4 linked regions of the Homo sapiens genome follow. The protein of the gene in region 3 binds, or shares a complex with, the protein of the main gene of each other region. Each region holds a gene or a part of one and is shown on either strand. Other genes may lie near its edges. A codon is read from its position in the direction of its gene.

The links.
Region 1: the proteins of RAB7A (region 3) and RUBCN are in contact, whole or in part, in a crystal structure (PDB 6WCW), measured with the Homo sapiens proteins. Residues at the interface, in NP_004628.4 of Homo sapiens: Ile41 (codon at 1,173), Gly42 (codon at 1,170), Ala43 (codon at 1,167), Asp44 (codon at 1,164), Trp62, Gln71, Ser72, Leu73, Gly74, Val75, Ala76, Phe77, Arg79, Ser101, Asp104, Glu105, Ile108, Gln109, Ser111; in NP_055502.1 of Homo sapiens: His818, Asn821, Met822, Lys824, Thr825, Arg827, Leu883, Gln885, Ala886, Lys887, Gly888, Phe889, Ile890, Glu892, Gln895, Glu897, Ile900, Pro903, Cys915, Lys916, Arg931, Arg934, Arg938.
Region 2: the proteins of RAB7A (region 3) and CCZ1B are in contact, whole or in part, in a cryo-EM structure (PDB 9L0D), measured with the Homo sapiens proteins. Residues at the interface, in NP_004628.4 of Homo sapiens: Ser17 (codon at 3,767), Lys21 (codon at 1,233), Tyr37 (codon at 1,185), Lys38 (codon at 1,182), Thr40 (codon at 1,176), Ile41 (codon at 1,173), Gln67, Glu68, Arg69, Phe70; in NP_932765.1 of Homo sapiens: Glu38 (codon at 2,827), Glu41 (codon at 1,478), Lys55 (codon at 1,436), Asn56 (codon at 1,433), Ile59 (codon at 1,424), Arg60 (codon at 1,421), Gly63 (codon at 1,412), Leu64 (codon at 1,409), Ala67 (codon at 1,400).
Region 4: the proteins of RAB7A (region 3) and PDZD8 are in contact, whole or in part, in a crystal structure (PDB 7F6J), measured with the Homo sapiens proteins. Residues at the interface, in NP_004628.4 of Homo sapiens: Lys10 (codon at 3,788), Leu14 (codon at 3,776), Asp16 (codon at 3,770), Ser17 (codon at 3,767), Lys38 (codon at 1,182), Ile41 (codon at 1,173), Gly42 (codon at 1,170), Ala43 (codon at 1,167), Asp44 (codon at 1,164), Phe45 (codon at 1,161), Gln60 (codon at 1,116), Trp62, Gly66, Glu68, Arg69, Phe70, Gln71, Ser72, Leu73, Gly74, Val75, Ala76, Phe77, Tyr78, Arg79, Thr98, Ser101, Trp102, Glu105, Phe106; in NP_776152.1 of Homo sapiens: Ile999 (codon at 2,298), Lys1000 (codon at 2,295), Leu1001 (codon at 2,292), Val1002 (codon at 2,289), Arg1003 (codon at 2,286), Lys1004 (codon at 2,283), Glu1005 (codon at 2,280), Gly1007 (codon at 2,274), Leu1008 (codon at 2,271), Asp1009 (codon at 2,268), Asp1010 (codon at 2,265), Phe1013 (codon at 2,256), Ile1014 (codon at 2,253), Lys1017 (codon at 2,244), Gln1044 (codon at 2,163), Leu1051 (codon at 2,142), Asn1054 (codon at 2,133), Asn1055 (codon at 2,130), Val1058 (codon at 2,121), Leu1077 (codon at 2,064), Leu1084 (codon at 2,043), Gln1085 (codon at 2,040), Thr1088 (codon at 2,031), Ile1092 (codon at 2,019).

What each region holds. Positions count from the first base shown.
Region 1 is NC_000003.12:197,677,903-197,684,921, forward strand, and holds part of RUBCN (run domain Beclin-1-interacting and cysteine-rich domain-containing protein), read right to left. Parts: intron 6,316-7,019; coding exon 6,255-6,315; intron 5,538-6,254; coding exon 5,405-5,537; intron 4,714-5,404; coding exon 4,568-4,713; intron 3,998-4,567; coding exon 3,933-3,997; intron 3,466-3,932; coding exon 3,227-3,465; intron 1-3,226.
Region 2 is NC_000007.14:6,823,260-6,831,152, forward strand, and holds the start of CCZ1B (vacuolar fusion protein CCZ1 homolog B), read right to left. Parts: upstream 3,017-7,893; 5' UTR 2,939-3,016; coding exon 2,819-2,938; intron 1,479-2,818; coding exon 1,381-1,478; intron 1,290-1,380; coding exon 1,196-1,289; intron 908-1,195; coding exon 830-907; intron 102-829; coding exon 54-101; intron 1-53.
Region 3 is NC_000003.12:128,792,164-128,799,182, reverse strand, and holds part of RAB7A (ras-related protein Rab-7a), read right to left. Parts: intron 3,824-7,019; 5' UTR 3,816-3,823; coding exon 3,763-3,815; intron 1,241-3,762; coding exon 1,114-1,240; intron 343-1,113; exon of another isoform or gene 1-342.
Region 4 is NC_000010.11:117,281,441-117,288,459, forward strand, and holds part of PDZD8 (PDZ domain-containing protein 8), read right to left. Parts: intron 4,360-7,019; coding exon of another isoform or gene 4,331-4,359; exon of another isoform or gene 4,254-4,330; intron 4,032-4,253; coding exon 1,828-4,031; 3' UTR 1-1,827. UniProt on the Homo sapiens protein: Molecular tethering protein that connects endoplasmic reticulum and mitochondria membranes. PDZD8-dependent endoplasmic reticulum-mitochondria membrane tethering is essential for endoplasmic reticulum-mitochondria Ca(2+) transfer.

The sequences.
Region 1 (7,019 bases), about 69 Mb from region 3:
CTGTCCCACACTCTGACTGACAACTGGCTTCAGACTGTCCTACGCTCTAACTCGACACCTGGCTTCAGACTGTCCCACACTCTGACTGACAGCTGGCTTCAGACTGTCCCACGCTCTAACTCGACAACTGGTTCCAGACTGTCCTATGCTCTAACTCGACACCTGGCTTCTGACTGTCCCACACTCTGACTGACAACTGGCTTCAGACTGTCCTACGCTCTAACTCGACACCTGGCTTCAGACTGTCCCACACTCTGACAGCTGGCTTCAGACTGTCCCACGCTCTAACTCGACAACTGGCTTCAGACTGTTGTATGCTCTAACTCGATACCTGGCTTCAGACTGTCCCACACTCTGACTGACAACTGGCTCCAGACTGTCCTATGCTCTGACAACTGGCTTCAGACTGTCCTATGCTCTAACTCGACAACTGGCTTCAGACTGTCCTATGCTCTAACAACTGGCTTCAGACTGTCCTACACTCTGACAACTGGCTTCAGACTGTCCTACGCTCTAACTCGTCAACTGGCTTCAGACTGTCCTATGCTCTAACTGACAACTGGCTTCAGACTGTCCTACGCTCTAACTGACAACTGGCTCCAGACTGTCCTACGCTCTAACAACTGGCTTCAGACTGTCCTACGCTCTGACTGACAACTGGCTTCAGACTGTCCTACACTCTGACAACTGGCTCCAGACTGTCCTACGCTCTGACAACTGGCTCCAGACTGTCCTACGCTCTAACTGACAACTGGCTTCAGATTGTCCTACGCTCTGACAACTGGCTCCAGACTGTCGTATGCTCTAACTGACAACTGGCTTCAGACTGTCCTACGCTCTAACTGACAACTGGCTCCAGACTGTCCTACGCTCTAACAACTGGCTTCAGACTGTCCTACGCTCTGACAACTGGCTCCAGACTGTCGTACGCTCTAACTGACAACTGGCTTCAGACTGTCCTACGCTCTAACTGACAACTGGCTCCAGACTGTCCTACGCTCTAACAACTGGCTTCAGACTGTCCTACGCTCTGACAACTGGCTCCAGACTGTCGTATGCTCTAACTGACAACTGGCTTCAGACTGTCCTACGCTCTAACTCGTCAACTGGCTTCAGACTGTCCTACGCTCTGACAACTGGCTCCAGACTGTCCTACGCTCTGACAACTGGCTTCAGACTGTCCTGTGCTCTAACTGACAACTGGCTTCAGACTGTCCTATGCTCTGACAACTGGCTTCAGACTGTCCTATGCTCTAACTCGACAAGTGGCTTCAGACTGTCCTACGCTCTGACAACTGGCTTCAGACTGTCCTACGCTCTAACTCGACAAGTGGCTTCAGACTGTCCTACGCTCTGACAACTGGCTCCAGACTGTCCTATGCTCTGACAACTGGCTTCAGACTGTCCTACGCTCTGACTGACAACTGGCTTCAGCCTGTCCTACGCTCTGACTGACAACTGGCTTTAGACTGTCCTACGCTCTAACTTGTCAACTGGCTTCAGACTGTCCTACGCTCTAACTGACAACTGGCTTCAGACTGTCCTACGCTCTGACAACTGGCTCCAGACTGTCCTACGCTCTGACAACTGGCTCCAGACTGTCCTACGCTCTAACTGACAACTGGCTCCAGACTGTCCTACGCTCTGACAACTGGCTCCAGACTGTCCTATGCTCTGACCACTGGCTCCAGACTGTCCTACGCTCTGACAACTGGCTTCAGACTGTCCTACGCTCTAACTGACAACTGGCTTCAGACTGTCCTACGCTCTGACAACTGGCTCCAGACTGTCCTATGCTCTAACTGACAACTGGCTCCAGACTGTCCTACGCTCTGACAACTGGCTCCAGACTGTCCTACGCTCTGACAACTGGCTTCAGACTGTCCTACGCTCTAACTGACAACTGGCTCCAGACTGTCCTACGCTCTGACAACTGGCTCCAGACTGTCCTACGCTCTGACAACTGGCTCCAGACTGTCCTGTGCTCTGACAACTGGCTTCAGACTGTCCTACGCTCTGACAACTGGCTCCAGACTGTCCTACGCTCTGACAACTGGCTCCAGACTGTCCTACGCTCTAACTGACAACTGGCTTCAGATTGTCCTGTGCTCTGACAACTGGCTTCAGACTGTCCTACGCTCTGACAACTGGCTTCAGACTGTCCTACGCTCTAACTGACAACTGGCTTCAGACTGTCCTGTGCTCTGACAACTGGCTTCAGACTGTCCTACGCTCTGACAACTGGCTCCAGACTGTCCTACGCTCTGACAACTGGCTCCAGACTGTCCTACGCTCTAACTGACAACTGGCTCCAGACTGTCCTGTGCTCTAACTGACAACTGGCTTCAGACTGTCCTGTGCTCTGACAACTGGCTTCAGACTGTCCTACGCTCTGACAACTGGCTCCAGACTGTCCTACGCTCTGACAACTGGCTCCAGACTGTCCTACGCTCTAACTGACAACTGGCTCCAGACTGTCCTGTGCTCTAACTGACAACTGGCTTCAGACTGTCCTACGCTCTAACTCGACAAGTGGCTTCAGACTGTCCTACGCTCTAACTGACAACTGGCTCCAGACTGTCCTACGCTCTAACTCGACAAGTGGCTTCAGACTGTCCTACGCTCTAACTGACAACTGGCTTCAGACTGTCTTACGCTCTAACTGACAACTGGCTTCAGACTGTCCTATGCTCTAACTTGCTCTAACTCACTCTGACAACTGGCTTCAGAGTGCCCTCTAGTCAGGGAAGGCCCCTCCGCCAGGTCTGTCTGCCCGAGTCACATAAGCAGTCTGGGCAGAGGAGTGCTCCGAAATTCCAATTTCTTACTCGATACCCGATTCCTCATTCATTCACTAATGTTTTTAGTGAAGGAAGAAATTCTGCTTTTGCCCTCAAGTGCTATCTACAGCTTCCTAGCTGCCATTGCCACGTTTGAGGCTCCAACTAGACAGATAACCTGGGAAATGGGAAGAGATTAAGAAAGTACATAGTGAGGGCATGAACGGAGAGACGGTTATAGCTTTGACACTGCGATAACAAGAAGTGTGGTAATTGTGGGAAGCCCTATATAACCAGGGGAGGGGACAAGGAGAGGAGACGAGGGGAGGGGATGGGGGGAGGGGACAAGAGGAGGGGATGGGGGGAGGGGACGGGGGAGGGACGAGGGGAGGGGATGAGGGGAGGAGAAGGGCAAGACTCTAAGGTGGCCTTTTCCAAGGTCTTACCCGGACTTGATTGAGCAGCTTGACCTTCCTATAGAGGGCACTGTTTATGTCCTGCACGTTGAAGAGAGGATCATTCCAGATCTTAATGAGCAGGTCCTTGGAGAAGTTGCTGACGTAGTACTTGCTGAAGTCCCACTTGCGCAGAACCCGGCTGGGGATGGCCATCTGGGCATTCTCGTGGCAGCACTGGCAGAAGTACTTGCCCAGGTACTCACAGTACCGCAGTCGCTTGATGTAATCTGGAAAAACCGGAAAGCCAGAAAGCCAGATGTAACTTTCCCATCTACAAGCTGGGAAGGCAGCTCTGCTTTTCCCTTGAAAGGGCAGAGAGGGACAGCCAATGGCCTCCAGCAACCTCTGTCTGAGTTCCCCAAAGCTTGCAGAAATCCACATAGTGGATCCTGGGGTGATAATGTCCTACCTTGGAGGCCCTGAGGAAATAAAACCAGCTGGAGATAGTAAGATCCCGCCTTACCAGCTAGCTGGAACTACCCAACTTTCCACAGGATACAATCCTGGCCATGTGCTCCCAGAAATCATTTCCCTCCGATTGCCAGCACTCTTGCCTACTACGAACCTTTCTTTCTCCTTCCCTACTTCTGCCACGCCACCTCCTGCTACCGCCTTTGACACGCCACCTCTCCCTACGTGTCGGGGAGGGTACAGAGCCTCTGGAGGCAGCATGGTGGGAAGGGAAGGCACTCACCAGGGTCAGTCCGGATGCCACATCCTGCACAGCGGTAATTCTGCTTGGCCACGGCAATTTTCCTCCTGAGGAAGGGTAAGGACAGGGCATTGGCACAGAGCAGCTGCGTGAGACCTTGGAGGTGTGAAGGAGTGAGCACACATACATACAGCTCCAGTTAAGTATGGGAAGAGAGGGGAATTCACCTACATTTTAGTTGGACAAAAATGAACCTATTGGGAGAGCTAACTCCATATAAGATTTAGGTCTAGGCAGTCACTCTGCCCAGTAAGGAACCACACATTCTGTACAAATATAAGGAATGAGATGTGGTAAAGGAGAGAGAATGACAGGAGAGAAGAGCATCCATCTATCTTAGAAAGAGAAGAAAAACCAGCAAGCCCACACAACTACTGGGAGGAAAGCTACAGGTTGGGAATGCCAGCAAAACAAAACCCGCCTCGTTTCCAATTAGCTCCAGGAATTAAGAGTAAGAAACGAAGGACCAAATGGACGACGCCCCCCCTCTGCCTTTAAATGAAGAGAACGGTGTGGGAAGGACAGCTGGAGGCAGGGACAAGTGGGTGAGACGAAAACCCTGACAATCCAAAGAGGACGGATCTGTGCTCCAAAGGGCACAGACACTGGCCACTCACGTTGGGGCTGGATGAACATTAAAAATTATCTGAGGCCGGGGCGGGGCCCACTCCAAGTTGCCACGAACACGAATCCGCAGCTTGTAGATGTCAGCGTGCTGCCCGTCATCCGGTGAGATGGGCAGTGAGTCAGGAATGGGCAGGAGCTGCAGGAGGAAAGCACAGTTGGGGTAAGCTCGTGTCAGTGTGCTGCCCGTCATCTGGTGAGATGGGCAGTGAGTCAGGGATGGGCAGGAGAAAAACACAGTTGGGGTAAGTTCACACGGACGGGCTTGAGAAACAGAAATGCGGGACCCTTTTGGCCATGACAGAGCATAATGAGTGAAAGACATTTCAGGAACACCACAGGATAAGGGCTTCAGGGAACCTCAGAAACAACCAGGAGGCGCCAAGGTACTACAAGTGAGGGCCGTGGGTTCCAAGAAGCAAACAGAAACAGCCTACCAGGGCAGTGGCCCCACGGCTCATGCTGTCCCTGCACCCATCCCAGGACCCTTGCTGTGCCAGTGTGTTTCATGCCTTAAAGACAACTGCAGAGCAAAGAATCCAAGCGATTTACTTTTGCGTAGTGTCTCCGAGGTGGTCACAAACCAAACATGACTGAGTCTGGCGAGCAGTCACGTGAATAAGGACCGCGAACGCGCCGTCATCTCTGCTCTGACAAGGTGAGCAAGCATTCACTCGTTCATTTATCACTTGACACATTGTAATGAATGGCTTCCACGAGTAAGGGGGGAACACCCAGGCTCATTCCAGACTAGGGACATGTGACGAAGGAAAACAAGGTCACAGAGGCTCACGATGGCCCCTGGGTAGGAAGAAGAGCTAAGGACCTACCTTCTGAGGGGCATCATGCTCCGGGACAAGCCACTCCAGCTCCGAGGCGGCTGGAAGCTGCATCCCCTCAAACTGCTTCAGGAGCCCCATGGCCACCGCCTCAGCAGACGTGGAGTGCAGGAAGCAGTGGGAGCTGGAAAGGGGAGAATCAAGGACGGCTGAACACAGGGAAAGGATGGGCGATGCGAGGCTTCCCTTCATGATCTCATCCCCCACGCAGCAACTTCTGGGCTGGAAGAACACCCGCAGCACCCTGGCCTGCTCATCACCCTCACACATGGGACAGTCAAAGTCCACTAGTCTCACGGTCCTAAGACTTCGGTTCAAGCCCCACTTCCTGCCACTGCACGGCACTGCTAATGAAGGACTCTGTCACTTCCTTTCTCTGAACTTCAGCTCCTCTAACAGCAAAATGGAGATTATAATGCCTGCTTACAAAACAAAGTGAGTAAAATTGCTTTGTGGACTACAAAGCGATTTTTCCTCCCAAATGAGCTACTGTGTCCCCTGGTTGGGTCTATGATGTGGAATCTGTTCAATTTGATTTCATAACCAAAAACCATCATCACTGCTCTCTTTTGAGACCTTCTGGGGCCTCTGGTTATGATGAGAGTCAGCAGAGAAGGAATAACTCACTTCCAGCTTTGCCTCCACGAGAGCCCATCCCACTGGGACCAAAGAGCTTCTGCTTTCTTCCCGTGGGCTCGGCACCATCAGCAAGCCCCTCCCTTTAACCTCGCCTCCTCTTACATCTGGATGGCTTTGCCCAGCCATACACCAAGAACTGGGTTTGTTTCTCTACATATCCTAAGGTTTTCTTTTCTTTTTTTTGGTAAAAAAAAGTACTCACAAGGACTGGGAGGAAACGAAGGATTTGCTGCTTGAGGCTGTGTTCCTTCTGATGTCAGCATCTACATGGAAACCAGAGATAAGGGGAGCGCAATGGAAACGGGGTGGGTAAGGGAACCTGGAATCTATTACAAGGTGCTCCCAGCTAAGCTCTCAGGGTAACAGCCAGGTGCCACACTCTATGCAGGAGAAAGGAGCAGGTGAAGCTCTAAACACAGGTTATAATTTGCCTCTATCCAAATCAAAACCAGGCTGAATTAGTAACATTATGCATAGCACTGAAAAGGTCAAAGTGTTACAAACTCAGGCAGAAAGACAAACTCAGCTTTGGTGTAAAACAGTGAATGAGAAGACGAGCATCCTAAGGCACACAGGGACACAACCCCTCATATGCACAAACACAAAACAAAGGACTCAAATCTCTCCCTCACTCTCCACATCTTAACCTTTCTCAAATGGTAAGCTCCCTTAGGCAGTAACTCTGTCTGGCTTATATATATATACATATATATATACACACACACATATATACACATATATATACATATATACGCACACACATATATGTGTGTGTATATATATACACACACGTATATATATACATATATAAAAAACATTTAGTGCCTAACACATAACTGGGATCATAGAGGTTCTCATGAAATATATGTGAAATTGGAACTTTGCTTCTAATATTTCACCACTGTTGCCATTACCCCGAATGTTAGAAGTGTCTGCAGTTTTGCCTCTAACATGTCATCACTGTTGC
Region 2 (7,893 bases), on a different chromosome or scaffold from region 3:
AGAGATAGGGGTAAGTGGTTGGACTCTGAGTTGAGAAAGAACGCCACGCTTACCTTGTACATGCTGTAGCACTGCCGCAGCACCGAGCTATAAACCTTGTCCTGCAGACGCGAAAACACAGCACACAGCTCAGTTCAAGGGAAAAACAATGTCTACTGGATAGATGGCAAAGGTACACTGACTCTTGGCCAAACAGTATAATGTTTATAAACTTCATCCCACAATAGTTGCGTGCTGAAAAAAAGTGTTTGCGTTCTTTTTTTTTTTTTTTTTTTTTGAGATGGAGTCTCGCTCTGTTGTCCAGGCTGGAGCGCAGTGGTACAATCCTGGCTCACTGCAACATTTGCGTCCCCGGTTCAAGCGATTCTCCTGCCTCAGCCTCCTGAGAAGCCGGGATGACAGGTGTGCGCCACCATCCCTGGCCAGTTTTTGTAGTTTTAGTAGAGACAGGGTTCCGCCATATTGGCCAGGCTGGTCTCGAACCCCTGACCTCAAGTAATCTGCCTGCCTTGACCTCCCAAAGTACTAGGATTACAGGTGTGAGCCACTGTTCCCAGCCAGAAGTGTTTAAACTCTAATTTGTCAATCAGTAAGCCTTACTTTAGGAGGGCTTTCAATATAGATGAAGAGTAGAAGGTATTAGTGAGATTGGGTGCATATACATTTTAAAAAGATTGTGCTCATGTAAATGATAAACATAAACCTTTGCTATATACCCCGAGAAACTTCTGCAAAAGCCTCCTAGTTTAAATCCGACCAAGTAAGGCATTCAACATACTCAGCAATACATTTAAAAAAATAAATAAATAAACAAACAATGACACATTACCAACAACTCCTCCTCTTGATATTCAATAACTGGTTTTCCATCTTTACTCTGTTTTTCAATTATAGGATTCCGAACAACCTACAAAGTTTGATAAACTGAAATTATACAATGAATTCATTAGACCATGTTTATTTTGCCTTAATTTAAAAACTTTGAACATGCTACAGCACCAGAAACACAACTTCTTAAAACAGCCCCAAGAATGAATAAAGCAAATAGGAAGAACTTGATTTTAAAATTGCAACCAATTTTATTTTAATTTTACTTGGATGCAACAGCCAGAGAACTTTCCTAAATTCTGAACAGTAAAGATCACCCATAACTTCACCATACAATTTCAGAAAGATACACTGTGTGTGTAAATACCATGACCATCCAGAAATTTTCTTCTGGTTCATTGAAGAACTGTCTGTTCTTCTGTGTATGTAAAGATTTTGCAGGTTTTGATGGGCTAAATGTCCTACAAAGGTTAAAAAAATATGTTTGGGACAATTCTCCAGCAGCAGTTTTAAGAATTCACTGAACGCTAAAGGCACACTTAGAGGTATTACCTTGTAAACTGTACAATAGCTTCACACAATCCGACATTTCTAATCTTCTCATTCTTTTCTACCTCATTTGGATGATAAAATAAAATCTTATTTTCCTCCTGAAACATGAGGAAACAGAAGCACAACATGAATAGAAACATTTCATCTTAGCTATTGAAAACGCTAAGTTCAATGTCGACCTCTTGTGTCACACATGCTAATGACAAAATAAAACAAAAACCGGTTTTAGAAAAACAGGAATTGTAATCCTAGTATTTTCAGAGGCTGAGGCGGGAGGATCACTTGAGCTCAGGAGTTCAAGACCAGCATGGGCAACACAGTGAGACGTCTCTATTATTTAAAATAAGAAGAAGAACAGGAATGATCTCATCATTGTGCAAATACTGCCCACCAGTCAGAAAGGCAATTTCGATAGTCAAGAAGTCACATCTGAAGTAGCACCAGGTAATTTTTATGAAAACTCAAGTCTCCAGGTTTCTTTCCTAGTGCTAATTTGTAATACACCAATGCTTGTAAGAAGTAAAGGTGTGCCCATCTGCAGACACATAGCTCCCTGAAAATTAAATCCAGTCAGTTCCCAGCCATTTGAACTGACAAGTTGTTTTTTTTTTCTTTTTCTGGAGATGGGGTCTGTGCTGCCCAGGCTGTAGTGCAGTGGCGCTATTACAGCTCACCTGCAGCCTCAATCACTTGGGCTCAAGCGATCCTCTGGCCTCAGCCTCCTGAGTAACTGGAAATACAGGTGCGTGCCACCACGCCCGGCTCACTTTTCAATTTTTTTTTTTTTTTTGTAGAGTTGGGGGTCTTGCTATGTTGCCCAGGCTGGTCTGGAACCCCTGGCCTCAAGCAATCCTCCCATCTCGGCCTCCTAAAGTGCTGGGATTACAGGCGTGAGTCACAGCGCCCAGCCTGGACAGTCTTTAACAGAAGTCTGACTTGCTGGAAACAAAACACAGCTCCGGACATCCTTTGAGAAAGTCGCCGTCCCCACCTCAGAAAAACCACACACACACACACACACACACCCCTCCCGAAATTAATTTATTTCCTCATTTGGGCGAAAACTATTACAGGGACCTCCAGGCTTGCATCATTTGAAGGCTAGCGTCTGCCACCCTGGTTCCACGCTTCTAGTTGGGGACTACCCACTTAACAAAGCCAAGTTCAATTTTAATTTCCCAGAACTGACGCAAAGCAAAGCGCAAAGAGCCTCAACCTGGGGTGTGGAGTGATATAGACCCGACGGGGCTTTATTCCATCGACCTAGGACCTGAAGCGGTCCCTGCCTGCTGTCAGGTCCCCGCCGCAGCCCCCTGCCCGGACTCGCACCTGGCACAATGCAGGCTAGGTCAGTGCCCCTCGAGGTGGGCAGAACCACAGGGCCACCTTCCCGGGGAACACCGGCGCCGCCCGCCCGCGCGCCGCCCCCTCCGCATACCTGTCCTTCGCGCGGCCCGAAGCGCGGGTTGTAGATGAAGAAACTCAGCAGCGCCGGCGGGAACTGCTTCTCCTGGGCCGCCCAGGGCCCGCTCCCGGCCCCGGCCGCCGCTGCAGCCATCCCGCCCCGGCCCCCACCTCGGGAGCCTCCCACGGCCCGCCCAGAGACAGCAGCCACCGGCTAAAACACCGCACTTCCGCCTCCGTCGCCACCGCCCCGGAAGCACTCGCCGCAGGCCCGGAAAAAGAATCCGCCTCGCAGCGTCCTCTTCAGGCACCCCCGGGTGGCCTTGTTGTCTGTTTCCTGGCCGAGTTTGTGTTTTGCTGGCTCGCGGAGTTTTCTCCTGGCTACAGGCGAGGGCTGCGCGTTTCAGGAAAAACCGAGCGGGCACTGTTTTTTTGTTGTTGTTGTTTTTTCTGATAGGGTCTCAGTTTGTCATCCAGGCTGGAGTGTAGTGGCGCGATCTCAGCTCACTGCAGCCTCAACGTCCGACACTCAAGCAATCCCCCTGCCTCAGCCTCCCAAGTAGCTAGGATTACAGGCGCGCGCCACCAAGGCCAGTTTTATTTTTTTGTAGAGGTGGGGTCTGTGTTGCCCAGGCTGCTCTCGAACTCCTGGCCTCAAATGGTCTCCCACTTCGGCCTCCCAAAGTGCTCCGATTACAGGCGTGAGACACCACCGCCCAGCCTGTTGTTGTTTTGGTGGTATTGTTTTAAATTTAATTTAGAGACAAGATCTCGCTTTGTCACCCAGGTTGGAGTGCAGTGGTGCCATCATAGCTCACTGCAGCCTCAACTCCTGGGCTCAAGGGATCTTCCCACCTCAGCCTGAGGAGTAGCTGAGACCACAGGCATGCACTACCATGCCCAGATAATTAAAAAATAGATAGATAGATAGTAGAGACAGGGTCTCACTTTGTTGCCCCGGCTGCTCTCTAACTCTTGGCATCAAGGGATCCTCCTGCCTCTGCTACTGGATGGAAGGTCTTGACCGTGGATTGCCCAGGTTCTTGGCTTGTTGAACACAGAACTGAACAAAATGCAATGCACAAAGTAACAAAAGAACAAAGCAACGAAAAGAAACAAAAGAAAAAACCGGAGTAAGGAATAGACAGATTTATTGAAGCGAAAGTACAACTCACAGAGCAGGAGCAAGACAGAGCAAACAGCTCAAGAGCCCCCATTAGGATTTTCATTAAGCTGGAAGAATTAGGTAACGCCCCTAGGTGCCCGTTAGAGGTCTCCGATTGGTTACACCCTCTGAAGGATTGGCCTGTGACCAATCAGAGGCTGAAGTGGAGACGCGCACCCGCCCCCCCGTCAATCAGAAGCTGTCACCCTCCCCCCCGGCCAACCCCCTGTCGTCCGTCAATCAGCCTCTGATTGAGGGAATGAACACGTGGCCTCTATGCTGCCTAATCTTGCCTAGAACTGGCTGCACCTGCTGTTCTTTTGTTTATGCCTTAACCCTTGGTTACCCTCATTCCCTATTCTGCCTCACCTGCCCTCCGAAAGTGCTGGGATTACAGATGTGAGCCACCCACACCAGGCCCATTGTTTTGTTTTTAGTTTATTTAAAAAGTATTTTATTCTAAGACAGCACTTTGCTCTGTTGCCCAGGCTGGAGTGCAGTGGCCAGATCAGACCTCACTGCAGCCTGGAACTCCGGGGCTCAAGTGATCCTCCCACCTCAGCCTCCCGAATAGCTGGGACCACAGGTGCATGCCACCATGGCTGGCTAATTTTTAAATTTTTCGTAGAGCTGGGGTCTCACTATGTTAACCCAGGCTGGTCTCGAACTCCTGGGCTCAAGTGATCCACTGGCCTTGGGCTCTCCAAGTGCTGGGATTGTAGGCATAAGCCCCTGTGCCATGGCAGTTTTTTTTGTAGAAGGAAATGTAGAGACACAAAGGAAGCCTCATTTAGAAATAAACAAGGCTGGCCACGGTGGCTCATAGCTGTAATCCCAGCACTTTGGGAGGCCAAGGTGGGTGGATCACTTGAGGCCCAGAGTTCCAGACCAGCCCCGTCTCTACTAAAATAAAAAAACTAGCCAGGAGTGGTGGCACATGCCTGTGGTTCCAGCTACTTGGGAGGCTTGAGGCAGAAGAATTACTTGAACCCAGTAGGTGGAGGTTGCAGTGAGCCAAGATTGCACCACTACACTCCAGCCTGGGCAACAGAGCAAGACCCTGTCTCAACAAAAAAAAAAAAAAAAAAAAAAGAAAGAAAGAAGAAAAGAAAGAAAAGAAACACACTTAGGGGCAGATGTGCATTCCGTTTGGCCCATTAACATCATCTACAGAGTCCTTGTTTGAGAGACCTCAAGTGACCACTGGATCACCCACACCTACAAAGCTTGCCCCTTCCCCCCATTCCTTCAGCGCAGGTCTGGAGGCAGATGGGGCACCATGTGTGCCACGGGAGCAATATCAGAGGTGGCAGACTCCCCAGAGTGGCTGTTCCTGGACCTTGTCGCCTGGGATTCCCTTGCCTTTGAGTTGTGTGGGTTGTGGCATAGTTGGGATGGCTTGTTACAGTTATGTGGATTCAAGCCTTGGCAGCATATGGTTTGACCAAACTCAAGAAGACTTTGGTTTAGATTGCCTTATCTGTCACATATTAAGTTTGGAAGCAGAACCACTTCCCTTATCCAGCCTGGCAGATAAGGGAAGTGATGAGTTGGAATTTGGACTGGAGACAGATCTGGGTACATATCCACTTTTGCCATTCACCGACTGCACCAATCTCCTTGCACCAAAGAAGAGATAGAGACTCTCTCGTCTGTATCTCTTATTTGGAAAATGGCTAATAGTAAATTCCTGCCAAGTGAGAGTTTCACTTGAAGAGTTAAATGGGACTATGAATGTGCATCAGGTGCCAGCAACTCATCATTATTTCATAAACTGTTGACTTTCCCAATTAGCTTGCTCTAGTGCATGCAGTTATTCCATGAGAAATACATGTTTTGGCTGGGTGTGGTGGCTCATGCCTGTAATCCCAGCACTTTGGGAGGCCGAGGATGGCAGATCACTTGAGGTCAGGAGTTTGAGGGCCAACATGGTGAAACACTGTCTCTACTAAAAAATAAAAATAAATAGCCATGCGTGGTGGCAGGTGCCTATAGTCCCAGCTACTCGGGAGACCGAGGCAGGAGAATTGCTTGAACCCGGGAGGCGGAGGTTGCAGTGAGCTGAGATTGTGCCACTGCACTCCAGCCTGGGTGACAGAGTGAGACTCTGCCTCAGTAAATAAATAAATAAATAAATAAATTAATTAATTAATTAATATAAAGTACAAGGTGCTATATAAGTGAGTGAGATTAATATTTTATAGTATGAGTCACAGTTTCTCCCAGGATACCTCTGTGTCCTTGTACATGTTTGCCTCTCCCTTCCTCCCACATACAATTCATTGCAGGAGGCATCGAAAGAGGGAGATGACAAAAAACAAAATGAAACATCCAGAGATCAAAGAAAAGAACATGCTTTTATGGTTTCAAAGTTAAGGATGCAAGAACGCTTAGACCTCAATGCATCTGCCTCTCCAAACACAGTCCTTGGGTGTGCACGGGTACCAGGCAGGAGTGGTAGTGACGACAGATACCCACATAGGTTTGGAGGTCTCAGAGGAGAGGGTGTGTGTGTCTTTCTCCCTGGGGAAGCTGGGGGAGGTGGTGAGCTTTGCAGAGTTCCCCTCTGGGTCAAGCATGGTTTGGTAACAGTAGAGTAACCACGGAACAGGGGTATCTGGATGAGAAATCCTTATTGTTCAGGAAGAAGCTGAATGACTTACTTGTGCACAGAAGGAATTCAGAGAAAGCCAGTGCTGAGAAGCCTCAAGGTCAGGACCAGGAGGAGGTAGCAGTGGCCCCTCAAGACCACGAGAGTAGAGAGGATTGAGGATGACTCTGTGTTCACTATTCGGACTGAGAATACTCCAGTCCCATCTGGGGCCTCGACTCTCTCCCCTAGCCTATGGTAAGAAGGGAGAAGAGGTTGCTTAATTACCTGACATGATTAAGATTCTGACACCCAGCACAATGGGAATTCAAATCAAGTTCAGTTACAGAAATAGAAGTTAGATGTTTTGCGCAAAGAATTTGCGAACTCAAATTCCAAAGGAATGAGCTGTGGGAAAGACACATTTTGGTGTTGGAAAGGGAGCTCAGTTCCAAGTAGAAAGTGACAGTTCCAACCGGGTGCAGTGACTCATGTCGGTAATCCCAGCAATTTAGGAGGCCAAGGTGGGCAGATCACTTAAGGTCAGGAGATTGAGACCAGCCTGGCCAACATGGTGAAACTGCGTCTCTACTAAAAAAAAAATACAAAAATTAGCCTAGTGTGGTGGCAAGCCCCTGTAATCCCAGCTTCTTGGGAGGCAGAGGCACGAGAATCACTTGAACCTGGGAGTTGGAATTTGCAGTGAGCTGAGATTGTGCCACTGCACTCCAGACTGGGCTACAAAGTGAGACTCTGTCTACAAAAAAAAAAAAAGAAAAAAAAAGTCCCAGTTCCAGGCTAGGTGGTTCTGGACATAGGTTGTCACATATGTCTGTCTCCTCCCTATCAAGGTTATATATATATATATATATATATATATATGCGTGTGTGTATATATATACACACACCACAGACACACACACACACACACACACACACACATATATATATATATATATAGGTTTGAGACAGTCTTGCTCTGTTGCCCAGTTTATAGTGCAGTGGTATGGTCATAGCTCACTGCAGCCCCTAACTCCTGGGCTCAAGCGATCCTCCTGCCTCTGCCTCCTATATAGCTGGTCCTACAGGCACGGGCCACCATGCCCTCCTTCCTATCAAGGAAAGTGAACTTCTTGAGGCCAGGACTCTGTTGGGGCCATCTTCTGGTTCCTGTTGTCTAACACAGTGCCTGCGTCACAGGACACGGTAAATCTGTGTTGAATGAATGAATGGAGGAGGCAGGGGATGGGGAGGAGTGGGCAACAGACGTCAGAGATGGGCTTTCATCCTTCAGAGCTCAGCTACTGCTTATCCTATGAATGGAGCTCAGTCCACAGGCTGATCTGACATTCAG
Region 3 (7,019 bases):
CTCTCAAGGGCAAACACCAGGTTCTTATTAGGCTGTGCTCCCAAGTCATGGTCTGGTTCTAAGTGTGAAGATGAAACATGATCACATTGAAAATTTGAAATCACTGGTCATCACAGAGCTGGGAAAATTACTGTAAACCTCACAGGCAGGTTAAAACTGCCCCTGGAATGATTGGCCCCAGATGTGATGTGCAACTCAAAGATCTAGAAAAATGACAGGATAATCTACTCCTATCCCAATAGTTTGGTTTCAAAGTGAGGTTGTACTGACAACCTCAGCTGGCATCATGGACCATGAAGAAAGAGATGAAAATACAGGAGGGAAAATCCTGGGATTCTTTTTTTTTTTTTTTTTTTTTTTTAAATTTAGAGACAGGGTCTCACTCCATCACCCAGGCTGGAGTATAATGGAGCAGTCACAGCTCACTGCAGGCTCAAACTCCTGGGCTCAAGGTATCCATCCTTCAGGGGTTTCTTTTCTAGGGATGTTAATACATGTATACAAACAAAATGACTCAATGGGGGAAAAAAAGGGAATAATAGTTTATAGCCAGAATGTGAAGGCTTTTCAACAAGTCATATGAAAGAATCTGTATCTTATCCTAACTGTTGAAAGGGAACCCTTGAAAGATTAATAAGCTGATACATAAAAAAAAGATTGGCTCAATAGACACACAACTCTTGAAGTTACGTATGAAATAGGAAGTCAGAAAAATAAAGTTTATGTCTCACTACTGAGGTGAGACAAAGATGTTTACCTAAAGCACTGGGCAAGGATGTCAAGAGAGGCACAAGACAGAGACCTGCAGGTTGCCAAATTTAGCAAACAACAAAACCAAAAACAACAAAAAACAAGAAAGGATAAATCTGAGTTTTTTTTTAAGAAGAATTTTTTAGTGTGTCTTAGCAAGTCGTATCTGAGATACACTAGAAGTATACTAAAAAAGTATTCACTATTGATCTGAAATTCAAATTTAACTGAGTATCAGCCAATTATCTACAAATAAGATAATAAGATTTGAAGAACAGGGAAGGAAAATGTCTATGCATGAGGAAAGATTAAGACTAAATGAACTATCAAGGCCTGGTCAGCACAGCCAAGACATGTGCTTACCTGCATTGTGACTAGCCTGTCATCCACCATCACCTCCTTGGTCAGAAAGTCAGCTCCTATTGTGGCTTTGTACTGATTGCTGAATTTCTTATTCACATACTGGTTCATGAGTGATGTCTTCCCGACTCTGAAATTGGAGAAAAACCATAAGTATAAGTCAAATAGGAGGGTCCTGAAACTGACACGAATTACTTGAAGCATTTAAAAGAATCTGCCTGACCTGAAGGACAAGAAACTGCCCTCACAGCAAAGGGCAATGCCAGTAGCCTTCCGAGCATTACACTTTTGAAGTTTTGTGTTTTCTCTCTGGGTAAAAATATAGGGTACAGATGTGGGGCAGATGTGGAAAAGCTGCTTACATGTTTTGGCACAGCCAGGTCAAATGGTAGAGCCTAGTATTATTTTTTCCATTCTAGAAGGATGCCAGCAAATATACTGCTTTCTAAAAGAAGCTTCACTATTAAGACTGTTCTGCTATTCCAACAGTATCCCTGCTATCTTAGATGTTTCTCCATTTAGTGGCTGCTATTTAGCTTGATGAAGTAACACCAGGAGGAAGACCTTGGCTTTCAGCAGACACACACCACTCAGACAATTTGCTGCTTTAAAGTTTAAAATCTGAAGCAGAAAAAGCACCAATATATCACCAAAACAAATCCACCTCAAAGAATGCTCCTCCAAATATGTTTTCTAGTAAGAAAACTCAGCAAGAGACAATGTGTGATTTTTGTGTGATAAGGTTAAGGTAACCTAAAGCTAATACAAAAACCTTCCCCCCCATAGCCAGTGATATCACCTTTCTTGGCCACAAAGGAACATGTTCATATTTGTGTTAAAGAACCTGGAGGTACCTAGACAGCCGAAGGCAGTGTTTTCCAACCCAGACCATCTAAGCCAGAATCTACAAGGTGAGAGGTGGCAAAACCTGGAATCGAACAAGGGCTTGGTGAGACTTTTTGCACAAGTTTGGGGAAGGCAGGCCTAAAAGCACTATCTTTCCATCCCGACGGGGATGGAGTTGCGGGGTAGGAGAGAGAGCACAAATCTAGGCCCTAGCCCACTGGTCTGGGGCTGGGCAAATGCTAGCGAACAAAAGGTTCTTCAAAGGCTGGGCATGGTGGCTCAAGCCTGTAATCTCAGCACTTTGGGAGGTCGAGACGAGTGGACTGCTTGAGCCCAGGAGTTTGAGACCAGCCTGGGCAACATGGTAGAACCCTGTCTCTATAAAAAATACAAAAATTTAACCAGGAGTGGTAGCACACACTGGTGGTCCCAGCTACTCTGGAGGCTGAGGTGGGAGGATGGCTTAAGACCAGGAGGTTGAGGCTGCAGTGAGCTGTGATTGCACCATTCACTTTAGTCTGGGCAACAGAGCGAGACCCTGTCTCTCACACACATACAAAAAAAGGTTCTGCAGGTGATTCAAATAAGCCAGTCAAGACAGAAAAACCTCTGGCTTTTCAAAGGAAGGGCAGGGGACTTTGGAATAAAGAAGCATACCTGCATTTGCTATTGTTGTTATTTTTAAAAATACATAAGCTTCCAATGAGTCAAAGCTTTCATGGGTCCCTTCAGATGCCAAGTCTGAAAAGCCTACCACAGAATCTTTTTATTTTAAGAGTTGGGGTCTTGCTCTGTCACTCGGGCTGCAGTGCAACGGCATGATCATAGCTTGCTACAGCCTCAAACTCCTGGGCTCAAGCCATCCTCTCGCCTCGGCCTCCCCAGCAGCTGGAACTACAGGTACGGCACCTGGCTAAATTTTTTTTGTAGAGACAGGTCTCCAACTCCTGGGCTCAAGCAATCCTCCCCTCAGCCTCCAAAGCACTGGGATTATGGGCATAAGCCACCTCACCCAACCTACCACAGAATCTTAAGAGCCATTAGAGTTAGCTACATGGTTAGTGGCACATCTAGAATCAGAACCCAGTTCTGCCGTCCCAGGCTCTTTTGCAGATAGATCTGAAGCAGGCACAGCAGCAGGAGGATACTGTATGGTGCACTAAGAACGCACATCTGGGTCGGGCGCGGTGGCTCACGCCTGTAATCCCAGCACTTTGGGAGGCCGAGGCAGGCGGATCACGAGGTCAGGAGATCAAGACCATCCTGGCTAACACGGTGAAACCCCATCTCTACCAAAAATACAAAAAACTAGCCGGGCGTGGTGGCGGGCGCCTGTAGTCCCAGCTCCTCGGGAGGCTGAGGCAGGAGAATGGCGTGAATCCGGGAGGCGGAGCTTGCAGTGAGCCGAGATCGCGCCACTGCACTCCAGCCTGGGCGACAGAGCGAGACTCTGTCTCCAAAAAAAAAAAAAAAAAGCACATCTGCTACGCCAGATGCCAATGGCAATACATCTACGTAAGGAAGACTCCCCAGCCTGGCCAGCTTGGAGAAAAGGGATTCCATGAAAATGCCTATCCTTAGTTGAGTTCAAATAGCCATCCGTTCCCCATAAAAAATCATGCTAAAAACTAGAGAACAAAAGGTTATATAACAAGGGATCATCTAAATTTCTGCCGTGGAGGGAAACATGTAAGGCCCTAAGCCTCACTATGAAAGCAAGAAGTGGCAGCACGGACAGTGTGGGCTCCACAGCAGAGAGGCTTAGCTCTAAGCCAATCTGTTAGCTCAAATTCATGAGTAACTTACCCAGAATCTCCCAGGATGATAACCTTCAGCAACACTTTCTTCCTAGAGGTCATCCTTCAAACTAAAGGGGGAAAAGGAGAAATCACTGTGAGTGTGATGGAAACACCAAAACAAAACACCTCCCTTGCACAAATGTCTGAGCAGCCCCAACAGTGCAGGGCCCTGAACCTTCCTGCTAGGTATCTTCCTTCCACCAGGGGGCACTGATAAAAAACAGTATCACTCACCAAAACTCTGGACCCAAGAGCGAGGCAGAACAGCACAGCAGGGCCATCCTGCCCCTGCAAGCTGTTGGAGAGAATGTATTCTCTCACTTGGGTGGTGGATCAATTGAATGGATTGGCAATTTGAACTAATGCTCCAACTTACTCAACAGCTTGGTCCTTGCTTCATTCAGGTCGCTGCTTCAGTATCACTTTCTCAAAGAAGTGACCGCTTTATTTAAAGCAGCATAACCCCTCATTTGCTCTCTATCCCGTTACTCTGCTTGCTTTTCCTTCAGAGCACTTACCACTAATTGACATTTTTATGTACTATATTAATCTAGTCTATCCCTTTTCTAACAATCTCCATGAAGACAGTTTTACTCCCCACTGTATACTCAATGCCAAGTAGAAATTTATTAAATGTTGGGTACCGTCTGAATACTTGACTCTGCAGCTCTAGTGACTACTCTTTTCCAGAAAATCTTTCAGGCAGCCTTGTCTACTCATAACCAGAAGATGTGAAAAATGCCTGATCTCTGCTCAACTGTCTTCCAGGACTTGCCACAGCATGGTCTATCTACTCATCAAGACAGGGCTCCTGCTGTAATTGCCTCTCATTTGCCAGGGTATGACTCAGTGACTTCCAGAAAATGAATGGGACTCAGAAGAACTACTTGTTAGTTTCCTCTTTAACCACCTACCTTTTGAAGGCAAGGCTGACAGCAGTGCCTATAGTGGGAGTGACTTAAGCAGCAGATATGAACCCAGGCCACAGGGATTTCTATTCTGGTTTTGCCGCTTATTAATTTAGCTATATGACCTTGAGCCAGTCATTTAATTTCTCTGTTGGAATAGGGAATATAGAGATGACAGCTCTTATGTCCTAAGAATGCTGTGAAGACTGAATAAATAAAATGCTCAGGACAGTAACTAGAATACAGCAGATGACTAGTAAATACTGGCCGCTACCATCTTAAGGTATGCCAAATACAGAGATGAGTAACAGAACACAGAGTCCAGAAGACAGTGAGAGAAGCAGCAGGTTACAGCTCCTAGGCAAGGTAATCCAGCTATCCCTCTCTTTCCAGATGCTTGGCTGTCAATTGTTCTCTTTCTCAAGAGGTGGTATTACACCCAAGACCACTAACTAAAAGGAAATATCAGACCTGACTACTGTCCTAAAGGGCAGGATTTGCTAAGAAGGCCTACGCTCTTGAAAGTAACCATCCTCGATGGCTTCAGAGTCTGTTTCTGGCTACAAGAACAGTATGGGAATAGGAGCCAGACTAGAGGATGGTTTGCTAGGCACACACCCCAGGTCCCATGACCTATGCAGAGGGTCAAGCTGTTTCTCTGCCAAAAGCCTCATGCCCATGGCTGGACTGTGAAGACACGGTATCTCAGCCCACCAGCATTCATCTAGAAAGTTCTTACTAGTGCTAGTTAGGGGCAGTATAAGATGACTTGGAGTTCTGTCTTCCATCATAATCAGCACTGAGAGGTATACCCCAAACTATCCATTATATGTGGAGCCCCACTATTCCCCTACCTTTCTCCCCAGGGACCGCTTTGACTGGTCAAAGTTTAAATGTCACACTCTAAGGTCTGGTATCATATTTCAAGATAGAGATCAGATGATGATAATGGGGGCAAGTTTCAAATAGAAAGAAGGGGAGGCCAAGGTAGGCAAATCATGAGGTCAGGAGTTCGAGACCAGCCTGGCCAACATGGTGAAACCCCGTCTCTACTAAAAATAGAAAAGGCTGGGCACGGTGGCTCATGCTTGTAATAACGGCACTTTGGGAGGCCCGAGGTGGGTGGATCACAAGGTCAGGAGTTCAAGACCAGCCTGGCTAACATGATGAAACCCTGTCTCTACTAAAAATACAAAAATTGCTGGGCACAGTGGCTCATACCTGTAATCCTAGCACTTTGGGAGGCCAAGGCGGGCGGATCATGAGATCAGGAGATCGAGACCAGCCTGGCTAACACGGTGAAACCCCGTCTCTACTAAATATGAAAAATTAGCTGGGCGTGGTGGCATGTGCCTGTAGTCCCAGCTACTCAGGAGGCTGAGGCTGGAGAATGGCTTGAACCCGGGAGGTGGAGGTTGCAGTGAGCCGAGATTGCGCCACTGCACTCCAGCCTAGGCGACAGAGCGAGACTCCGTCTCAAAAAAACAAAAAACAAAACAAAATTAGCTGGGCATGGTGGCACGCGCCTGTAATCCCAGCTACTCAGGAGGCTGAGGCAGGAGAATCGTTTGAACCCGGGAGGCGGAGGTTGCAGTGAGCCGAGATCACGCCACTGCACTCCAGCCTGGGTGACAGTGCGAGGCACTGTCTCAAATGAATAAATAAATAAATAAATAAATAAATAAATAAATAAATAAATAAAAATTAGCTCGGTGGGTGCCTGTAATTCCAGCTATTCGGGAGACTGAGGCAGGAGAATCGCTTGAACCCAGGAGGCAGAGGTTGCAGTGAGTGGTGGGGAAGGGAAAAAAAGGCTGGGTGTGGTGGCTCACACCTGTAATGCCAGCACTTTGGGAGGCCGAGGCAGGTGGATCACTTGAGGTCAGCAGTTCAAGACCACCCTGGCCAACATAGTGAAACTCCATCTCTACTAAATACACAAAAAAATAGCTGGGTGTGGTGGTGCGCACCTGTAGTCCCAGCTACTCGGGAGGCGGAGGCAGGAGAATCGATTAAATCCAGGAGGCAGAGGTTGCAGTGAGCTGAGATCACACCACTGCACTCCAGCCTGGGCGACAGAGCAAGACTCTTTTTCAAAAAGGAAAAAAAAAGAAAATAGATAAAAAGATGATAAAAGGATATGCAAAGATATTTGGAGAATATTTATGAAAGTGACTGATTTTAAGAATGGGAAAAGGGATTTGCATAACTTGCTTTGTTAATAGGTTTCACTGGTGTACCAATGCTGTTTAATAATATTAAAAAGAAAAAAAACAGGAAATACACTTCAACCTCCAGACTCCTACATGATAGAATTCATGTTTGTTTCCTTCCCTTTGAGTCTCTACCCACACGT
Region 4 (7,019 bases), on a different chromosome or scaffold from region 3:
AAACTTGGCTAAGAAAGGTATTTAGTACCTGAAATTTTCGCTTACTAAAGTAACAAAAGGCATGAGACTTGGCTATTGATTTTTAAAGTGGAATAACTTTTCTCCCCTCAAAAATGTCTTTCTTACTCATATAAATAATGCCTTTTACTTGTATATCTTTTTACTGTTCAAAGCACTTTTGCAGTTATGCTATTGTTTCCCTCACAACAATACTGTGAGGGAGGTAAAGTATTATTATTCCCATTTTAGAGATGGGTCCTTTTGTAACTGCCTATGCTTACACAGTTCATTAATGGAAGGGCTTGAACTTAAACTCTTTTATGGAGTCCTGGAGTCTAGACCTGGGCCCCAGTCCTTAATATTACACCATGCTTTTTCCTGCCAGCAATAAAAGCTGCTCCATCTAGTTTTAAACTCATGTCAGTTTCACTATATAGCAATCATCATAGCAGTTACCTACAAAGGGACAAACATATACTTGTCTATTTTATAGGTATATAACAGACCGAAACCATTAAGGTACCCCAACAACAGTCGAGCTTACTTGTTTTCCCTCAGTCAAATGTTACTGGGACCCGTAAAATGGACCCAGTGTGAGTATATCTTCATTTTCAGAGAACTGGTCCCAATTCCTATGTATGAATACTATTTTTGTCATTCTTTTCTTAATGAATACTCACTACAGAAGTATTCAGAATGATCACCATTCCTTTACAACTGTAAGACGCCAAAGCAAAAAGTATATTTTGCATGATTCCTTTCCTTCACAGAATACTCCTACATGAAAATGTTTTTTCTAAAACAAAACCAGCCCAAACTAGTTATCAACACAGTCATTTTAAAAAGAGTCCTCCAAAACTTTAAATACCCTTTCACATGCTTTATTTCCTATGGGAGAACTGATGAGGAAAATTATCATAAATGTTTAAACTTTTAATTATAAAATTTAAATTTCCATTTAAAAGGAAAGCATCAATATTTTAAAAGATTATATTTCAAAATGCTATGTTACTGTTTTTCAGTAATTAAGTCTTGTTATCCTCTCTACAAAATTCTTGACCAACTGCAATCTACATTTATTTCCTATTACATTGTCTTTCAATGTAAGCTCTTCAAATTAATCACCATATTTTTACCATACAGCTGCACAAAAGCTTTAGAAAAAAATTTCACAGAAGCATCGAAAGCAAGCAATATATGTAAAAAATTTTTTTTTACTAAATCAGCATAACAGACTAAAGCTGCAGCATCTGCTTTCATGTTACATTTGGCAAAAACAAAACAAAAAGCACCCCCAAACCCCCAAAATAACAAAAATCTCAAGCAAGTAGAGACGATAAACTTCATAACACAAAAGAAAGATTCAAAACCTGTTCCCTCAGTGATTGCTGTTGTCAGTTTGGGCATGCAGCAAATTTGTTATAACCATGATGGAAATGAAAATATTTTAAGAATCTAGACAGTATTCTATTTAACACTAATTCAAAAACCAAGAGGAAGAAAAATAACACAAGGGGACACCATACATACATAAACATGAAAAGCTAGCTTACATAATTACATAATTAGAAAAGTTAAATAATTTAGTAAAAATAAATTCCCAGTATAAACCCAAAAAAGCATAGCTATAAATGCAATCCAAAACAACCAATTAGTAAGCTGGTCATGTTTTTACTGGAAAACAACCTTTCTCATTTTTGTTCTTACACAAGCAAGTAACTGGAGAAGCAGGCCAGAGTGCATACGAGGATTTAAACATGGTTGTATCTGTGGTACTTTAGATGCAACTTTACCCTGTTCATTTGAAAGCTTAAATAGACCTGTCTGCTACACAGACTCGGATGGGCCAAATAAGTCATCTGATATGCTGCTGAATGGCTGAGAGTCTATTAGTTGGCTTATTTCATTATCAAGGTCTTCTTCTGTATCATCTGTGTACTTGCTTATTTTTTTGGAGTGCTGGTCTAAAGACAGACTTTCTAAAGTTTCTATATCTTCAATGCCTGCTCTGTAGTGAATCATAAGAAGTGTTAGAGCTTGTAGCCTTTCACCTGATTTAGCTAAGGCAGCAGAAAGAAGTGATTTTTTCCTTGTATCAGTTGTCTCTTTTTCTTCTCTAACAAGGGAATTATTGTGTTCCAACTCCTGATCAATTTCATTCTGTAGCTTATCCAACATGAACTCTAGTTTCTGGATCCTTTCCTCTGTAGGCAAGCCCCTGTACAGATCACGACCAATTTCTTTAACTGCAATGAAAACACTGTCATCCAGACCACCCTCTTTTCTCACTAACTTTATTCCTGTGCTGTTTCCCCGTTTAGAAGGACTGTTTGGACCACAGACCTCCGTGTCACTGCCTTCGTTGTCTGACGTGTTGGGTGTGTGTTTTGGTGAAGGTTCTACGAGATCGGTTCCTGGTTCAGAAAGGCGAGTTTTAGAGACTTGACGCAAATTTAATAAACGAGAACTAGTATTGATAATATGCCTTGTCAAACCTGTTGTTTTATTGACTGACTTGCTAGCTTCAGCATCAACACGAGGAGGCAGGCCTAAGAGGGTTTCCTGTCCTTCCAGCCTAAGGTTTTTCAGTGTCCTGTCTATTCGCCTATCAGTTGCTCCACAAACAGAAGTCTCAGCTAGACACTTTTCTTGACATTTTTTATGGCAAACATAAGCACAAAACATACACTGGGAAGCTGCTTTAGTCCAAACTTTTTTCTTACAGTAGTCACACCATGTTGGGTTCTGGAACTGAGTATCCTGAAAACTGTGTTTGTTTTCTGTTAAACCCATCTGTCCAACAAATTGCTCCTCTTTAGGGAGAACAGAAACTTCTTCAACCAAATGGGGTTCTTTTTCTTTTTCTACGTTAGTAACTACATGGTGGTCTGATTCTCCTTCTTTCAAATATTTGAAGTGAATAGTAATGTCACCATAGCAAAATTTGTCATTGAATCCCTTTTGCATACTCAGATTGCGTAGTGCGGTTCTAGTGACTATAGCCTTAGGTGAGGGGGCTTCCAGTCTCAATTTGGAAAGGTATTCCGTGTTTGATGTAGCTAGGCATCCTAAAGCCACATCTTCAAGTTTTAAACTAACATGCCCCAAACAGATGAGACCTCCCAACTTGAAAGGATCCCTGCACCACAATGCAATGTTTAAGTACCTGTGACAGGCTTCTATGTCAAACAAACAGGATGCTCTGGTTCTTGTCCATTTTCCTAGCTTATTACGATAAAGAATTTCTGATGATTCCCATGTTTGACGGTCGTCCGAACTGTCCTTAGTAGGGCAGGAAGTTTCTGAAGTGACATCTTTGGCCACTTCTTGCTTTGCTAAAAATTGCTTAGGTGCAGCTGCATCGTCTATGGCATCCACATTTTTTGCTTGCTTTTCAGCAGATTTATCTACAAGAGGAGGTGGCACCACCTTCTCTGGCTTTTCAACGAGAACATCTGGTTCTGCCTGATTTGGAGCATCGGCGGAAGGCAAAGGAACTTTCGCTTGTGGTCGTGGTGGCACAGGTGGTTTGAAAGCAGATCCTTGGGTTGGTTTTGACACTTGTGCTGGGTCTGTTATCTCAGAAGTTTTTAGGGGTGGAGGTTTATTTCCATCTTTGGACTGAATTTTCGGTGGTAGTGGGTGACTTCCTACAGCTAATTTACGGTTTAAAACTGGTGATATAGCTCCAAGGGGTTTAATAGAAAGTGTTGTTGGAACACGTTTGGGACTATGACTTAATGATTGTGCCTCATCTTTGAACTCATTTTGTGCTCTGACATCACTTGCCAAGTCTTCAAATTCAGAATCCAGCTCTCTACTTTCAGTATCTACTGTCAACCCGGCAGCTTCCTCTTCATAACCCGATTGGCATGAGCTTGACAAAAAGTTTTCTTCCAACTGGCCAAAGTTATCTTGCAGCACTGCACCTTGATTACTCTGGCCAACAGGCCTTTCATAGTACACCAGGACTCGGTCACCAGCCTGCTTGATAAGCTTCAACACTTGCAGTGTTGATGTGATTTTCACACCTGGTTTAAGATTTTAAAAGGGAAAACATGTAAATTATTGCAATAGAAATTACTACATTTGTTAAATGTATTTAATTAAATATATATAATTGCCATTACCTCTGGTTATTTAACTAATAGAAGAATAATAGGAAAATCTCAACAATATTTTATTTGGCTTTTGGATGAATCAGTGTGCTAATTCTCAAACCCTGAATGTGCTGATATCCTGGAGATGTTTACCTTTTCAAACCAGATGATGACACAGGATCCCAAAAAGAGTGCCAGGATGCTAACTCCTAATTGCTTTCTATCTCTTCTTAGGTTAGATGACATCTCTCAGTTTGAACTGAAGAAGTGAACAGAGAGAGATCTATTTAAAGGATTCTATTAATGGCTAAATCAGACTTAGAGTGAGGGAAAGCTGTGATTCCACTGAAGGAAATTCTAAAATACTCCAGGGATTACAAGACATATGATGAAAGATTCAAATTAAGAGAGCAGTGCTTGAAAATAATGTAGCAAAATACTATACTATGAATAACGTACTTTTACAGATTCTTTTTATCAACCGTACCCATCACATTCATCTTTTTCAAAACCAGAAAGAACAAGTAAGGGATAAACTGCTTTAAAGTTAAACAAGCTGGTTACTATCTGCATCTGTAATATCTACGTTGTTTTTATTTTTCTTATTTTTTAATTGTTACACGTAGTTTAAAATTTGAAAGGTATAAAGGTATAAAAAGATGTACAGTAAAAAATATTCTTTCCACCTCTGTCTCCCAGCCATACTGTCCCTTCCCTGACCTTAGTAGCTTCTAGTGTATGCTTCTATAGATATTCTAGGTGTGTTAGCACTTAAAGGTGCTACTTGTTTCCTGTCACTCTTCCCACACTCTCTAAAACAGCACTTGCCCAAGCTATCCCTTTATGTAGAACTTAGAGAAAGAATGAGAAGGCTCTTTGTTTTCCAAAGATCTTAGGGCCATCCTAAATAAATCTAAGTAACACCACCCCTTTCTCATAACTTGACTTCAGGTTTCCTCAACCTGTGTCCTCTCTTACTTCAGCTGTCTGGGAAGATCAGGCTTTAGACTCGGTCATCACTTGGAACTTGTCCACATCAAAGATCTTTCATTTTCAATTAGTCTCTGATCACAAGCTCCTATTTTTCACCTCTTACAATCCTGTCTGCTCACTACTTTTAGGCAACTTCCCGGCCCAATCATTCCTCTTTTCTTCTCATGGTCCTGTTGGTCTCCTGATACCACTTGCTCTTCTATCCAACCCTGTGTCTCAAGATTACAACGATGTTCTTACCAATATTTTATTTTCTCGTCCTCATGTTTTTTGATCCCCAGCTTTACTAGCCCCACTATTGCCCTTTCCTGCTCTTGAGCTTGCCGCTTGGATCTAGCATCAAGTTAGCCATCCATCTTTGGCAAGGTGTTCAGGGCTGCTTAGCATTCTTTTGATCAGTCTGTAAACAACTAAGTCTCTCAAACATCAGCTGTAAATCTTTCCTGTTTCCCTAAAGTCTACTCTCCCTACTCTCTTTTACTCTGTGCATGCTATCACCTTATTTGCCAAAAAGATCAATATGAAGCTACCTTTTCTCCCTACCATCATTTTTAGTATTATCTTACTTCAGAGGAGAAAATATCCCTCTATCTGTATACTTACTTTGGATCCAATCCTCCTGTCTCCTTCCTGACTTTGCTCTATCAATTATCCTTAAACTTTTTCTTCCTTTTCTTTAAAATTTTTCTTTTTCTTAGTTTCCACAACACTTTACACAATTGGTTCTGATCACCTCTCCTCTAGCTTCTTTTTCTCCACCTATACCACCTGCACCTTATATGCAACTGTTACCAAAGTTTGCCACTAGTTCTCTCACCCTTTTTTGCTCTCTCCCTGGTAAATTACAGCCACTCCAGTAGTCTCAAAAACTATCAACTTTTTCTTTGGTTTCCCTTCTTCTTCACTTTAGTTCTACATTCCCAACTACTGGACATCACCACCTGGATGTTCCTTTGGGACTAAATATTCAGCAGAGCTAAAACCTTTCTTTGACTGTCTCTCTGTCCTCACTACTATCAATCAACTTGCCACTCCCAGTTAACTCAATTTGAATCCTAGGGATATTTGACTCCCTAGAAACATTCAGCTGTCAACTCAAACTTGTGATTTCAGCCCATTTTCCTTCCCTGTTCAGATCCTCCTGATAACTGGCCTTCACTTTAGTAATAAACAGCTTTTAACTGCAATCTCTCACTCAGACCTTCCCTACTTTAAACACCAAACATATTGCTACGAAATTTTCCTAAAGCATTTGCCCCTTTAGCCTACAAACTTATCACATGGAAATTCAGAGCTTTCTAATATGGTGCTTCATTATTTATCTAGCTTTAAGTTCTACTACGTCCTTCTAACCATACTATGTCTCAGCAAAATTATAGTTTGACATATGCATAAATGAAAAATTAGTCCATCTAATGATCTACAGTAGGCAAAAACTTCAACTCAATCTGAACTCATTTTTTATGACTAAAAATCTGCCCTCGTCTCATCTATTCCTCAGTCATCAGGTGTTTTGTGGAGATGGCCATTGCAACTCTCTCTCAGGAATACACCATTCAAGTCTGGATTTTTCTTTTGGAATATTTCAAACACACTCAAAAGCTGAGGAAACAGTAAAATGAATTCCATTTTGAGCTTCAAATATAATATTTTGCCAATCTTATTTCAACTATCATCAATTATATACCCATATAAATGAATCAAAGCGATATAAAAATGTTTTGAAAAATATCTGTTGACATGGGGAAAGTTTACAACATGCTAAAAGAAATAAAGACTATTACAAAAATGCATAGTTTAGAAATTTTTGTTTCCTAAACAAAAATTGGGAAAGGCATATATTTATGTACAGAAAAAAACAAACAAACAAAAAAACAAAAAAAGAGACATACAAAAGCTTTTCTGTTATGTTCCAAGGTTTTTCTT